Homo sapiens: one gene and its partners. The protein of the gene in region 4 purifies or fractionates together with the protein of the main gene of each other region. This does not show direct contact. Each region holds a gene or a part of one and is shown on either strand. Other genes may lie near its edges.

What was found.
Region 1: the proteins of STAM (region 4) and CYRIB purify together in Homo sapiens (affinity purification with mass spectrometry; one large-scale study listed by BioGRID and IntAct). This does not show direct contact.
Region 2: the proteins of STAM (region 4) and ZRANB2 fractionate together in Homo sapiens (co-fractionation; one large-scale study listed by BioGRID). This does not show direct contact.
Region 3: the proteins of STAM (region 4) and IKBIP purify together in Homo sapiens (affinity purification with mass spectrometry; one large-scale study listed by BioGRID and IntAct). This does not show direct contact.

Annotation. Positions count from the first base shown.
Region 1 is NC_000008.11:130,013,761-130,017,844, forward strand, and holds the start of CYRIB (CYFIP-related Rac1 interactor B), read right to left. Parts: upstream 2,801-4,084; 5' UTR 2,610-2,800; intron 1-2,609. UniProt on the Homo sapiens protein: Negatively regulates RAC1 signaling and RAC1-driven cytoskeletal remodeling. Regulates chemotaxis, cell migration and epithelial polarization by controlling the polarity, plasticity, duration and extent of protrusions.
Region 2 is NC_000001.11:71,071,036-71,074,535, forward strand, and holds part of ZRANB2 (zinc finger Ran-binding domain-containing protein 2), read right to left. Parts: intron 1,514-3,500; coding exon 1,437-1,513; intron 1,221-1,436; coding exon 1,086-1,220; intron 1-1,085. UniProt on the Homo sapiens protein: Splice factor required for alternative splicing of TRA2B/SFRS10 transcripts. Binds to ssRNA containing the consensus sequence 5'-AGGUAA-3'. May interfere with constitutive 5'-splice site selection.
Region 3 is NC_000012.12:98,638,289-98,641,788, forward strand, and holds part of IKBIP (inhibitor of nuclear factor kappa-B kinase-interacting protein), read right to left. Parts: intron 1-3,500. UniProt on the Homo sapiens protein: Target of p53/TP53 with pro-apoptotic function.
Region 4 is NC_000010.11:17,682,151-17,685,650, reverse strand, and holds part of STAM (signal transducing adapter molecule 1), read right to left. Parts: intron 977-3,500; coding exon 901-976; intron 820-900; coding exon 724-819; intron 1-723. UniProt on the Homo sapiens protein: Involved in intracellular signal transduction mediated by cytokines and growth factors. Upon IL-2 and GM-CSL stimulation, it plays a role in signaling leading to DNA synthesis and MYC induction. May also play a role in T-cell development.

The DNA.
Region 1 (4,084 bases), on a different chromosome or scaffold from region 4:
ATTCCACATAGGGAGGAACCACGGGACAACCATTTCAAGGTCAACTGCAGGCCAGTGCGCTGACCTTGAGATGGAAAAAGAATGTACATCCTCAAAGAGCAAAGGGGAACCCATCATTCTTCTGCCCATTCTGTCAAAAGACACGTACTGTTTCCTGCATGGGCCAGGCAGCAGGTCAGGTGCCAGAGGAAGCACAAAGACCACTCAGCGTCTGCAAGAAGAAAAGTGAGCTCTGCAGGCTGAAGACTTAGGCAAGGACCCTCAATCTGCCCCTTCCTGACTGAAGGTCTTGGGCCAAGTCCTGCACTCTCTCTAAGTCTCAGGAAAACGAGAACCCTAGCTCTCCTTTACAGGTAACCCTGGCCACTCCACAGTTCAGTCATTAAAAATGAATCTGGGCCGGGCACAGTGGCTCACACCTGTAATCCCAGCACTTTGGGAGGCTAAGGCAGCGAGGATCCCTTGAGCCCAGGAGTTCGGGCAACATGGAGAGACCCCATCTCTACAAAACATTAAAAAATTAGTTGGGCATGGTGGTGCACACCCGTGGTCCCAGCTACTTGGGAGGCTGAGGTAGGAGGATGGCTTGAGCCTGAGAGGTCAAGGTTGCAGTAAGACATGATCACGCTACTTCTGCACTACTTCAACCTCAGCAATGCGTGAGACCCTGTCAAAACACAAACAAAATGAATCTGCACATGCTCAAACTGCAGCACGCTGCTGCACAGAAGGGTCTGCACTGTCTCTTAAAAATAATAGTAGCACTTACGGGGGTCGGGAGTTGGGGGACCCACATAGCTAAGGATCCTAAGAGAGGCACACAGAAGACTTTGGGAGCTGAGAAAGGAGAAGGGGTGGCTGTCAGAGACAGCAAAATTACTTGAAAATCTCCCAAAGTGAAGGGCAGAAACATATATTGGCCTTTATCTGAAAACCATTTCCAAGTCTCCCTGTGCTGGAACCCACTTCAGCCTCCTGCATCACACACTCTGCCCTTCTCCGTGCTGTGAGCCCAGCAAGGATCTAGAGTGCAAATTCCAATGTGCCTCCTCAGGAAGAAAACTCAGGCCAGCTGACCACTTCTGCATGCCGACCAAGGTAGAAAAGTCACCTCTTCCGGGCTTCCCCCACATTACAGGAACCCCAGGCCTGGGAAACCATCCCAGACGTCAGCCCTGGCTCAGTCTTGGCTGTTGGCCTCAGCCAGTCACCTGGCGGTGGCAATCAAAATGACGCCTTCTTTTTATTTTTCCCCCAGTGCAATCTTCCAAGAATGGGAGAGTCTCAAAGTCAGAGTTTAAGCCCTTTTTCACAAGGGAGTCAGTATTTTCACAAGATGGTCTTCCTCAGAGAGGGGAGGAGTCCATCCAACCCAGATAGCAAAATTGCTCCCTGGAGATCCTGGATGGATGTTACAGGGCAAGGAAGCCAAAATGTGGAAGCACACCGACTCACCTCTCAAAATTCACCACCCACTCGTTCATCTCACAATTATCTATGGGGTGCTTCCCACGTGCTTCAACGCACCCTTTCTAGGTGCTGGGGATGCAGAAATTCAAGGTGACTGGCAATGACACTTTCTATCACTGCGCCCCCTGCAGGCCAGGAAATCTACGCTCGTTTTCTCAAGGCCCCACTCGCAGCAGCCCATTTCACAGACGGGACCCTAAGACTCAGAGAGGGTAAGCGACTTGCCCAAGGTCACACAGCTAGTAAGCGGCAGGGCCAGGAATTAAACATAGCTGCAAAGTGCATGTGACACTCCCCCGCAGCCCCAGCTCTATCCCTCCGCACCCCTCCACCTCTTGCAGCAGGGTGGGTAGCAAAGGCACACTCCAAGTAGCTCCAGCATGGTAAGACCTCGATTCCTCCTTCGTTCCACTCCTGACACAGGACACACGTTTCAAAGGACACACAGGTTTTTCCCAACCCCAGTGTGTGTGTACACAGCCCCAGGAAAGCCCTGCAGGCTGCAAGGGCACCCACCCGCTAACACTGAACTTCCATTTAAAAAGAAAGATAATGAAAAGATAAAAGGCGAAGAGGAAGTGCTCTTTAAACACAGGCGGGTGGCTACCCCAGGAGGAAGTCTTGAGGCCAGTGGAGATTTTGTTCACCCCCTCTAGTTCCTCAAATCCAATGCGACTGGTCTTCCAAGCCCCTGATGGGAGGTGGCCGGGGGCCAGCGCTGCTCCCGGGGTCAGTCCCCGCACCGACACCCGGCTCGCAGGAAGGGTCTGCCAGGGACCAGCCACCCCGACCCGAGCGCCCCCTGCCTCGAGGCGCACAAGGCGCCGGCTCCGCAGCTGGGTGGACCCGGGCGGCGGCCCCGCTGCGCGCTCCCCTCGCGTCCGCCCGCCGCCCCCCGCGCACTCGAGGCGCCTCCCCCGGGACCCCCGCGCCCGCCGGCCCGGACGCCCCCACCACGGCGGCGCCCCCTGTCCACCCGCCGCAGCGCCCGGCCCGGCGGCCCGGATGGTACCTCCGCCTCTCCCCGCACCCATCACGCGCGCGCCCCGCACCCCGCGCCCTCTCCGGGGGCAAATCGGATCCAGGGGCGCGCGCGCGGGCCGGCCGGGCGGCGGCGCCTTCAGAGCCCCGGCACGTACCTGGCGGCCCGGGCGGGCGAGGGGAGCGCGGCGCGGGAGCGCAGGAGCCTCGGAGCCTCCGGTGCCGCCGCCGCCGCCGTTTCCGGGTTGGCGGGGCTCACGTCACCGCCACAGGTTTGCGAGCTGCCCCCGCCGCGGCGGCAGCAGCAGCAGCAGCAGCAGCCCGGGCGAGTGCCAGGCGAGAAATAACTATAAAAGGAAGAGGCGCGGCGAGGAGGAAGAGGAAGCGCTGTTTACCTTCGAGAAGCCGAGCCGCCGGCGCTCGCACAAAAGGAGGACGCTCGCCTCGCGACGCGCCTCCCCCCGCGCCCAGTCCCCGCCGCATCGCGGGGCCCCGGCGTCAGCGCGCGCCGCGCCCCGGGACCGCCCCGCGCCGGCCCCCACCCCAGAACCCCGCGCCCGCCTGGCCCGTGTCCTCCCGAGCCGGGGCGCCACGGGCCCGGGACGGTGGTGACCTTGGGCAAGTCACCGCGGGGCGCGCTGCGATTGGGGGTCATCGCCCTCATTGTGCGAGGAGGAAACCCGGCTCCGAGAGGCGCAAGAGTGACCCCCAAGGTCACTGCCTGTCAGGCAGGGCTTGGGCTCGAACCCCGGTCTCCAGACCTTCAGGCCGGCCAGGTTCCCATCCCTGGGTCGCTTCCCCCTCACCTGGACTTCAGGAATGGTGACAGCCCCTGCCTGGCTCACCTCGCAGCGGGGTCAGTGAGAGGAATGCTGTCCACGCACCCATTCAGCCCTCCCGCAGATACTTACTGGGCCTACTAAGTGCCCGGGCTGTTCTAGGCCCTGGAGCTGCAGCTGCGAACCAAAACAAAATCCCTGCCCGGGAGGGGCAGCGGGGACAGGCCGTAAATATCTGATGGGTCCTATGGTGCTAAGTGCTGTGCCAGAGGAAAAATAAAGCGGGGTGAGGGGACGGTGCGGGCTGTCGGTGCTACCCTAAGCGGTTCTCCAAGGACTTTAAATTTAGTACAGAAATTCCCACATAAAAAGCTCCTCGCCATAATTCCAGTTTCAGGTATTATGGGAGACCTCATCTTTCCCCTGATCTAGAATGGAAAATACTGTGTTTTTCTCCCTGTAACAGGACATGCCTAGGAAACTGATACTCTCCTTCCCTCTGCCTTGCTCCCCTGGCCCAGAAGCCCATCCTATCATTATCTTGACATTCAACCAGAAATTTCTCGGGAAGATAGACAACATTCTCTCAAGTATCTTTCTGCTGTCCTCTAGCAGGGTATCAAAAGGGTTACATCAAAGGCTTCCATTGTCTTTCCACCTCCACCTCCAGCTATAGGGGGGTTGGAGTGTGCTCACATCATACTCAGTGCTGAGTTACCTGATTAGGAGCCAGTTGTTCCATTTCTTTTCTTTTTTCTTTCTTTTTTTTTTTTTTGTCTAAGACAGGATTTTGCTCTGTTTCCCAGGCTAGGTAGCGCAGTGATGCGATAGCTCACTGCAGCCTCAAATTCCTG
Region 2 (3,500 bases), on a different chromosome or scaffold from region 4:
GTGTTACCTACCAGGAAAGATAAAACAGTTAGGTGTACTGAGCACCTCCATATGCATATATCACAGGTATCTCAGCAAATTAATTCTGAATTCTAAAATTCACCTACTAAACTCATCTCAAATAGAGACTTGACAACTTTGTCTCAGGTATTGCACAGACATAAACCTGGAGGCCATACACACTTTTTCTGTCACACTTATGCATCACCCAAGAATTTTCAAGTCCACCTCCTTAAAAGTCCTTGAAATCACCATTTTTAGTCTTAGACACTCTGTTCCTTATTCTCTAGCATATTATAGTAACCTCTTAGCTGGTCTCCTCAAATCTGAAGATCCATTCTGCCTCTCTAGTATCTCAATATACTGACAGTCATCACTCTGAAACACAGGACAGATAAACACATCTCACTTTTTTCTTAAAAACTTCAAAACTGGCTTATTATTTCTTTAGTTGCATTCCAAGACCTCTTATGATCAGGCTCTAAGGTACCCTTAACATGGCATAAAACTTACACTCTGGCCTGACAGAACAAGTATCACCAGACCTGAAATGTGTGCTGTCCCCCTCATCTCATTCTCCCCTCTGCTCTAACTATACTGGCCTATGTATGGTATTTTTGAAGGCTGCTGGCTTATCTCCTATTTAGGGAACCCGTATTTGCTGTTCTCTGCCTAAATGTGCTCTCACCTCGGCTCTTATTGCTGGCTCCTTCCTATCATTCAAGTTTCAGCTCAAACTTCACCTCCTTAGACATTATCCATCGGCAAAACCAAAGTTGCTTTTAAACTGTTATCACATCATGTGTCTTCATAACGTTACTGCTATCAAAATTACCTATTTATATATTTCCTCCTCTAGAACTGTGTAAGAGAAAACTGGTTCTGTTTCGGTCACCACTGTATCTCCAGAACAGTAGTGTTCCAAGTACAAATAGTACTTGGCAGAGTGGAAATCCAAAACCTTTGTGAGAACAAATGAAAACACAGAATATATTTTCACCAAGTGTCTGAGGCTGTCAAAAGCATTCATGTTATGGTATAACTCCAATAAGACAAAAGGGAAATAGGACAAGAAAATTGTTCACCTCATCTAACTTATATTTAGAAAGATCTTCATCCTCATCCTCTTCTTCTCCCTCTGATTCTTTATCTTCAACTTCCTTTAATATAGATGCAGGACCAACTGCTTTCCCTCTGTATTTTTTCTTTTTACGTCCAAACTAGAGAAAAACAATTTCAAAATGCTTGTCAGCTGATAATGCATTAAACTTAATACATTTTCTAAAAAATTATTTTAGATATTTATGATTTCCTGAAAATGATCAGTTGCTGAAGACTCAAATTGCACTTAAAAAAAAGTTTGTTTTCCTTTGCATTTAAGAATTTTTTCTGTTTTTCTAATTTATATTCAACCTGAACACCAAAATATAGCTTACCTCATCATATTCACCATCAGATTCTTCTCTTTCTATATATTCAACATTTTCTCTTTCATTAAAACCACCACCATATCCTTAAAAAAGAGGGCACAAATTGTTACCCTATGACAATTGATTTAAATAATAAACACATCATGCCCAAATCTCCAGACAACAAAAAACATCTAATCAACAATGGCTGCCTACCCATCTAATAAATTACTAGTCTTTAGAAAGCATATTAGAAATCACCACAGAAAATACAGAGAACTTAGTTGTAACGTCATATGGCTGTACTTCTAGCTCTTTTCAATTCCAAATTGCCCTACATGACTTATTTAATTCATAGAAAGTATTGGTGGAAAACATCTCAAACTTCTGCTATAACCAAGTTTTAAAGGACTTTCCTCTACAGTTAATCGTAATTCTTCTGGGAAGGGTGGGCTCAGTAACAACCAAGCATTAAATTCCACTGTTTACCAACTGCAAATAGTCTGAAATCTTCTGATATTCTGAAATTTTGCTACTTTAAAATGTAGCAGGCCTTATTAGAGCTTGGAAAATTCCTAATTACACAGACAAACACAATAACACAATAAAGGCCATCCTTTGGCCCTGGTTTAATTGGTTTTAACACATAGGTAAAAGTCACACAGGTTCTCTGAAGTAGCCAGTAAATTTTGAAATTAAATGATTCTATTAAAAAGTAGTTGAGATTAGCAAACCACTATTCTCTCATGTCACAACCAATGTATACAATTCAATTGGCAGGTCTCTGACATAAGCTTAAAGGAGAGACTGGAATTAAAGAAAATGAGCTAGTTTTAGGAAAAGTGAGTTGACATATTTTGAAAAAGTCTCCCATTGAAAATTAAAGAGGTATGTGTTGATCAAGAGTAATACAATCTAACTGGTCACATACTCCAGAGCAGTATCAGTACAATAAGGCCGGTGATTTCCAGACTTAGGGACTTCATTCATCAGCAAAATATTAAATAGATTTATAATAAAAATATTTTATAAAAATTAGGACTTGTAACTTAAAATTTGCCTATCATATTTAAAAAAATATTTTTAAAATTTCACTTTCTGAAAAAAACCCACACTAATATAGCATCTTTTCTTCATTATACTTTGTACTAGTGAAAACTTCAAAATACTTGGAAGTTAATAAAAATATTTTTAAACATACGTGGGATCTAAATTGGAAATAATTTACATAGGAAAAAACTGAAAAGTAATATGACAAATATGGAAAGCTCAAAAATATAGTAAAATTAGAAAGTGAACTATAACTCTAGTAGTTAATTTTTCAAAAGTATGTAAATAAAATTATTTTAAGAGGCAGCAAAATAGTCTGCTGACAACAAAGACATTGGTATGTTCTATGAACCCATACAATATAAATCTAGCTCATTAACTCTGTATAAATGGAAAATACACTAGCTCCCTATCGTGAAAAAACTGAAGCATACCATTTTCACTGAATACCTGAGATAGTGGAATCAATGGAATGATATGTATGTTTCCGTCATTCTACTAATTTCAAGCACTTCAGATAATGCTGTATAAATTGGTTTTATTTCCACTCTTGCCGCCACCTCTCCTAATTACTTCTCCACAAACAGAAAGAAGAGTGTTTAATCCATTACTCAGGTAACTCATCTTTCACTTCTTAGCTTAAGCATAGCTTTCCTAAAGAGGACTTCATTAATCTTTGGTGCTGTAAGACTCTTTTGCTCACCTAGGTATCCCCAGCACCTTGCACAGTGGCCTATAAATGTCTTCAAGGAATGAATACAGAAAACACAATTCTGGAATCATCTAATGAATTTGAATTTCTATGGAAAGCTTTAGAAAGCAACCAAGAATTTCCGTAGATTTTAGTAAGTCTTACAATGAATATATTTTCAAATTTGTCTCACAGTATAATGTAAAAAGCTGAGCAAGGGCCAAGAAAGAATCAAACACAGGTTTAAAATGAATGTTTGGATCAAGATTGTGACAATGGAAAAAAAGCGGGAAAGGGGGATGAATATAACATGTACTTCAAAGGAAGAACTAAGGCACTAACAGGAAAAC
Region 3 (3,500 bases), on a different chromosome or scaffold from region 4:
TTTAATCTTATTTTTTAAAGACAAGATCTCACTCTATTTCCCAGGCTGGAGTGCAGTGGTGTGATCATGGCTCACTGTAGCCTCCCAGGCCCAATCCATCCTACCCCCTCAGCCTCCTGAGTAGCTGGGAACACAGGCGTGTGCCATAATGCCTGGCTAATTTTTTATAGAGATGGGGGTCTTCCTATGTTGCCCAGTCTTGTCTTGAACTCCTGGGCTCAAGTGATCCTCCTGCCTTGGCCTCCCAAACTGTTGGGATTATAGGTGTGAGCCAGAGCACCCAGCCAATACTTCATAGGGTTGTAGTTTGTTTTTCGACAAGGTCTCATTCTGTTACCCAGGCTGGAGTACAGTAGCCTGATCATAGCTTACTGCAGCCTTGAACTCCTGGGCTCAAGTGATTCTCCCACCTCAGCCTCTCAAGTAGCTAGGACCACAGGTACATTACCACCACTGGCTAATTAAAAAAAAAAATTCTGTAGAGAGGAGATCTGGCTATTTTGTTTGTTTGTTCGTTTTTTGAGGCAGCTGAAGAGGAAGAGGTCTACAGTGACACAATCATAGTTCACTGCAGGTCAAACTCCCTGGGCTCAAGCGATCCTCTCGCCTTGGCCTCCTAAAATGCTGGGATTATAAGTGTGAGCCACCATGCCTGGCCGAGTTATTGTAGACATTAGTTATTGCTATTTATAAAAGCTCCTGGAACAATAGAGCCATAGCACATCAGCTATTTCCTTTAAGTACTGTGGCCCCTTTTTTTTCTCTTTTTGGAGATGGAGTCTCACTCTGTTGTCCAGGCTGAAGTGCAGTGGTGTGATCTCGGCTCACTGCAACTTCCGCCTCCTGGGTTCAAGTGATTCTTCTGCCTCAGCCTCCCAGCTAGCTGGGATTACAGGTGCCCATCAACAAGACCAGCTATCTTTCTTTTGGACTACTTTGTGCAGCTACTCTTCCATCCTTCCTACATGCCTATGATTGCATAAGGGAAGCAGGGTTCCCGACCACTTGCACTTGATAGAAGCCCCAGGCCTGTCCCCCTTTGAACACTAAGTATAAACTGGGTTGTGTTTATGGCAAATGAAGGATGGAATAGATGGATTAGACCACTTATAAATCACTAAATAAAAATAACTCTCGTTTTTGGGCCTCTTCTCACTATCATATCATATGGCCTTGTGGAAGAGTGAGATACAGGAGAAAGGGACCCAGGCTACTTTTAGCGTAGGCCTTACAAAAAGAATCTTCCTGACTCCTTCATGAGCCATTGCAGTCTATAGAGACCTCATACAGATCTATCTAGGGTCCTGTGATAATGAATGGTTTACATTTTCCTACAGTGCATGGTGGTAATTAATGGTGTGTGTTGCCTCTGAATAGCTCCTTTAGGAACGTTAAATGGTGGCAGACAGCTGACTGAGGACTTACAAATTCAGGATTTCCTCTGGCTCTATTTCAGCTTAATAATGAAAAAGAGGCAAATAACCAAAGGAAGCTGTTACGGACCTTCTGCAAGGAAAGAAGTTCCAGGGCCACTATTAGGGTCAGTACCCATTTAGCCCTATGTTTCATACCATCTATAGCCTCAGTTTTAGCACAATACCTAGTTTTCAAGAAAACCTTGACCATATTCCATTTTTAAGAAGCAGGACATTTAAATTATACCCTTGTCTTTTAGATAAAACTCTACTAACACAAAGAAAAAAGCTGGAAATGGAGTTAGCCAAGGTTTTACAGTATGATTTATAGAGAAAATTATATTGGATAATTAAAACAAAAACCAGAGTTATACAACTTGCTTAAAGAGCTTTTGACTTTTTGTACATAATTATAACAGATACTATAAAAAACTTTTATAAAGGCAATTTAGGCCAGGCACGGTGGCTCACGCCTGTAATCCTAGCACTTTGGGAGGCTGAGGTGGACAGATCACCTGAGGTTGGGAGTTTGACACCAGCTTGACCAATGGAGAAACCCTGTCTCTACTAAAAATACAAAATTAGCTGGGCGTGGTGGCGCACACCTGTAATCCCAGCTACTCGGGAGGCTGAGGCAGGAGAATTGCTTGAACCTGGGAGGTGGAGGTGGAGGTTGCGGTGAGCTGAGATTGCGCCACTGCACTCCAGCCTGGGCAACAAGAGCAAAACTCCATCTCTCAAAACAAAACAAAACAAAACAAAACAAAACAAAACAAAAAAGCAATTAAAAAATCTATTGAAGTTTCCATAAGAAACAAAATTTTCACAATGGAAATTCCAGCTGATTAAATTTCTATGTAATTAAATAAGCATGAGTGACAGGTTTTGTGTCTTGTTTAGTAATTTAACAACTTTTTAACTTTCTGAAAGTAGAATCACCTCAATTCTTACCTGAAAAATTTCTATAAGAGTTTAGAAAAGAGCTATGCAAACTGACACTCAAGCCATATGGGTTTGGGCAACTTATCTCCAGTGTTTATTGTCAAGATGACATAGGATATATCAGGCCTTTTTTTTTTTGCAGGGTCTCACTTTGTCACCCAGGCTGAGTGCTGTGGTGCAATCAAAGCTCACTGAAACCTCAAATTCCGGGGCTCAAGCAATCCTCCAACCTCAACCCCCCAAGTAGCTGGGACTACAGGCATGCGCCACCATGCCTGGCTAATTTTTTGTATTTTTTGTAGAGACAGGGTTTTACCATGTTGCCCAGGCTGGTCTTGAACTCCTGAGCTCAAGATCCGCCCAACTCGGCCTCCCAAAGTGCTGGGATTACAGGTGGGAGCCACCACACCTGGCCTATCAGGCCTTTATTTAGCAGAGAGAAGATATTAAAGCAACACACTTTTAAGTTTCTTATGTATTATTTCTCTTTTCTTTCCACATAGGAAATGGTCTGAAGACAATGATATAGTGTGATTCCTTGAAATCCTTCTTGGGCAGTGGAAGGGTTCAGATTTTTTCCCTCCAACTTAATCAGATGAAGAGTGAGAGTAAGCAGTATTTAAGAGTACACAGACAGGCACACATATGCACTTGTATTTTAACCACCAGGGCCGTGTCAGTACGGAAAGCATTTAATAAAGATTTGATAGACCGACTTTTAGATGCTGAATTACGTGTTTTAGTGGTAAAGATCTCAATGGCTTTGTCAAAATTCTAGTGAGCTTTTAAGTATTTTAAGATGCCAAATACTTGCTTTTTATCTGGAAAATGTTTACAAATGTCTTATGGGGATATATTTTTATTTCAAAATTTACTATGAATAAATATTTTGCAATAAACAGCAACCAAAGTACATTTGCTTCAATTTTTGCAGCAAAAGATTTCACAAGAGCAACTAAGAGGCAACTATTTAAATAATAATTATAGAATCTGCCCATAAAAAACACATATAATACATACATTTTAGAGAGACAGGGTCTTGCTCTGTCTCTCAGGCTGGAGCACAGTGGTATAATCATGGGTTACTGCAGCTTTGACTTCCCAGACTCAAGCTATCTTCTCACCTCAGCCTCCCAAGTACCT
Region 4 (3,500 bases):
TGTTCAGGTTGTGGCCCAAAACACTAAAAGATCAAGTATGTTGCTAAACACACAGAAACCAGCCCCAACCCTGAGCCAAATTCCTTAAACCCTCCTATAAACTGCAGCCCTCCTGTGTAAGTTCCCCTAATAAATCCTTTAGACTGATCACCCTGGCATTTAGTGCCTCTTTTTTTGGACTCTCATCTGGCCCTATCTGGAACAGTTTGGGGCAGTCCCTTGTGGAAACTCCCCCGCCACCACTTTTGAGGCAACTCCAGCTGTGGGTTCAGCCAGTAAGAATAGCAGTATAGTATTAAAATCCTGTGATGGCCAGGAAGCAGCCTTATTGATAAAGATAAAAACTCAACGGTGCCATAGACTTTTTGCAGTGTTTCTGAAAGGTTTTCCATTAGGAAAATACCTTGTGCCTACAAAAACAGTATGTAAAATAGACTGATATTATTTAATTAGATATAGAAATACCTGTTTTCTTATCAGATGAAAGTATGATGGAAAAGAACAGGTTAAAAACACTCTAATATGGCTTGAAAAAACTAACTCAAAGTTACATGAATCCGCAGTCTCTTCAACAAAACATAATATTTATTTATATACTGGATAGACACAGCCTAGAAAGGATTTCTTAAAAAGCACAGAATAGTCCTCTGTGAAGATTTAAACAATAAAATATGTGAAGAAAGAAGACTGCCTTAATTAATTTCTGGAAATAATGCTCCTTACCTTATTTAATACGTTGCTTACTTCACTAGCAAAATCTCTTGAACATACTTCTAAATGAAAAATTTTGCCACAGTTTGATACACATGCTCCTAGAAGCTAAAAGCACAAAATCAGAAGTTAAAGGGGCTCAATTGTGGCAGGTAATTTCGTGGTACAGATTAAAATGAAACCACTCACAGTCAAAGCCTGCATAGCAACGTGAGGATCTTTGTGGTTCACTCTTCTCATAATAGACCGAAGACAATCCTTAGGTCTAAAAAAATGAGAAAAGTAAAAATTACTTAATAATACATCTAGCTTCCCCCTGCCCCTTAACTGTTATAGACAAAAGACTACGATAAAAAGGGAGACTATGATAAAGTAGGGAAATTTAATTTTTATTAATAACACGGTTGAAAAACTGTAAACTAGTTCCTTTAAATTTTTCAAACAAAATTAACAGGCTCTCTTATTAGTAATCGTAGATGAGGCATTTCAGGCTAATTCTGGGTAGGAAAAAAAAAAAGGTTTGAAAATAAAATGGTAGGCCATGACTTCCACTTCCAGCCAGGGTGGAAAAACAGACCAGACTTACACTCCCGTTGTAAACAATTAGAAAACTGGAAAAACAGATTTTCCACACTGAGGTTAACTTTTTAAAGACATGAGGCCACAGGCAGTACTGAATGATAATATCCAAGAAGGAAAATGAATTAGATAAGCCAGAAGTTTGCCTCAACTTTCTGCCTAGAGGCACTTTCCAAGTATCAGTGAAGACCTTCTGAAAAACCCACGCATGCACAGGTGAAAAACTCCATGAAACTGGTCAAAAAGTGACCGAGGGCGATATGCTAAAGAGATCCAACGCTCACACAGTCGTCAGAGATGAGGCCACAGTGAAGCATCTATTGAAAATCCAGAGGATTCAGTGGATATACAGGGGAGTTTAGACCCTAGCAATGCAGCTCAATCATACCTACATACTGCCTAACAACATAAGCCACAGACGAATGTAACCACTTCTGAAAAAATAAAGTCCAATACTCCTTAACAGGAATACAACACCTGATGCTCAAAAATATAAAATTCAAAGTACTAAGCATTCAATAAAATGATATGAAGACATGATATGAAGAAGAAAACTACCATACACAACTAGCAGAAAATTCAGTCAACTGAGAATGCAGAAATAACAAAGATGATGAAATTAGCAGTCAAGGACTTTATATAAGCTATTATAAGCATGCTGGAAATCATCCACATAATGATGAAGAAATATATTAAAAAGGGCCCAGATAAAAGTCTAGAGACAAAAAAATATGTAAAATTAAAAAGTGGATGGAATTAATCAGGTAAGAATGAAAGATCAGTAAATTTGAAAATATGCTGAAAGTACCCAAACTGAAGTACAGAGAGAAAAAAAATGAAAAAATTTAACACAGAGCCACCACTACAAATATTTTTAAGAGAAAAATGAAAATAAAATAGCTTGGGTGCAGCAGCTCACACCTATAATTCCAGCATTTTGGGAGGCCGAGGTGGGCAGATGGCTTGAGTCCGGAAGTTTGGGACCAGCCTGGGCAACACTGTGAAACCCTATCTCTACAAAAAATAATACAAAAATTAGCCAGAAATGGTCCCAGCTCCTATGGGCGCAGTGAATGGCCTGAGGTGGGAGGTTCACTTGAGCCCCAGAGGTCGAGGATGCAGTGAGCTGTGATGGCACCACCGTACTCCATCCTGAGAGACAGAGTGAGACCCTGTCTCAAAACAAAGTTTTAAATCAAAAAAATAAAACCATAAAAACCATTTGATTGATACACAAAAGACAGAAAGAGAAAACAGAAGAAACATAACCAATCATCTAGAAAAATGGCAGATTAAGATTGTAATCCAACTACACTTTTATCTATTCACTACCGTTAGCAGTTTTCATAACAAGGAATACTAACAGGGATAAAGAGAGACAGTACATAATAATAAAACGGTTAAGTCCCCCAAGGAAACATAATTCTAAATGTGCATGAACACAAAAATAGAACTTCAAAATATATAAAGGAAACATCGATACAGCCGAAAGGAAACACAGACAAATCTACTGGAAACTTCAACATGCCCCCTCAATGACTTGATAACACAAGAAAAAAAAGTACTGATATGGAATACCTGAATGACACTATCATGAAACTTGACCTGACTGGCATTACACAACAATCCACCCACCCATGGCATTATACACATTTTTTTTCATGTGCATGGAAAATTCAACAAAATGGACTACATTCTGTCCTATAAAACAAACACTGATAAATTTAAAAGGACTAAAGTCATACAAAGTACATTCTTTGACCATAACAAAATTAAACTACAAATTGATAACAAAATGATAGCATAAAAATACCCAAATATTTGGAAATCAAATAACAAATATCTAAGGCTTACAACAAATGAAATCACAGAACCATAATTTCCCTTAAGGACATGAAAATGAAAGCATACTACCCAGTACTCTTTATAAGAATGTTCACAGAGGCTCTGTTCAGAGTCAAAACCTGGATACAATCCAAATGCCCATCAACAGATGAATGGATAAATTGTAATATATTAACACAATGTAATACCTCTTCCCCAAGAAACAGGAATATTGATACATACAAAAATTTGAATTCATCTTAGAAACACATTTAGTGCTAGACACAGGAGTACTGACAATACTATTTCATTTTATGAAATTCTAGAAAAGGAAATTTAATCTATAGTGACAATGCATATTAGTACTTGCATAAGGTGGAAGGAAC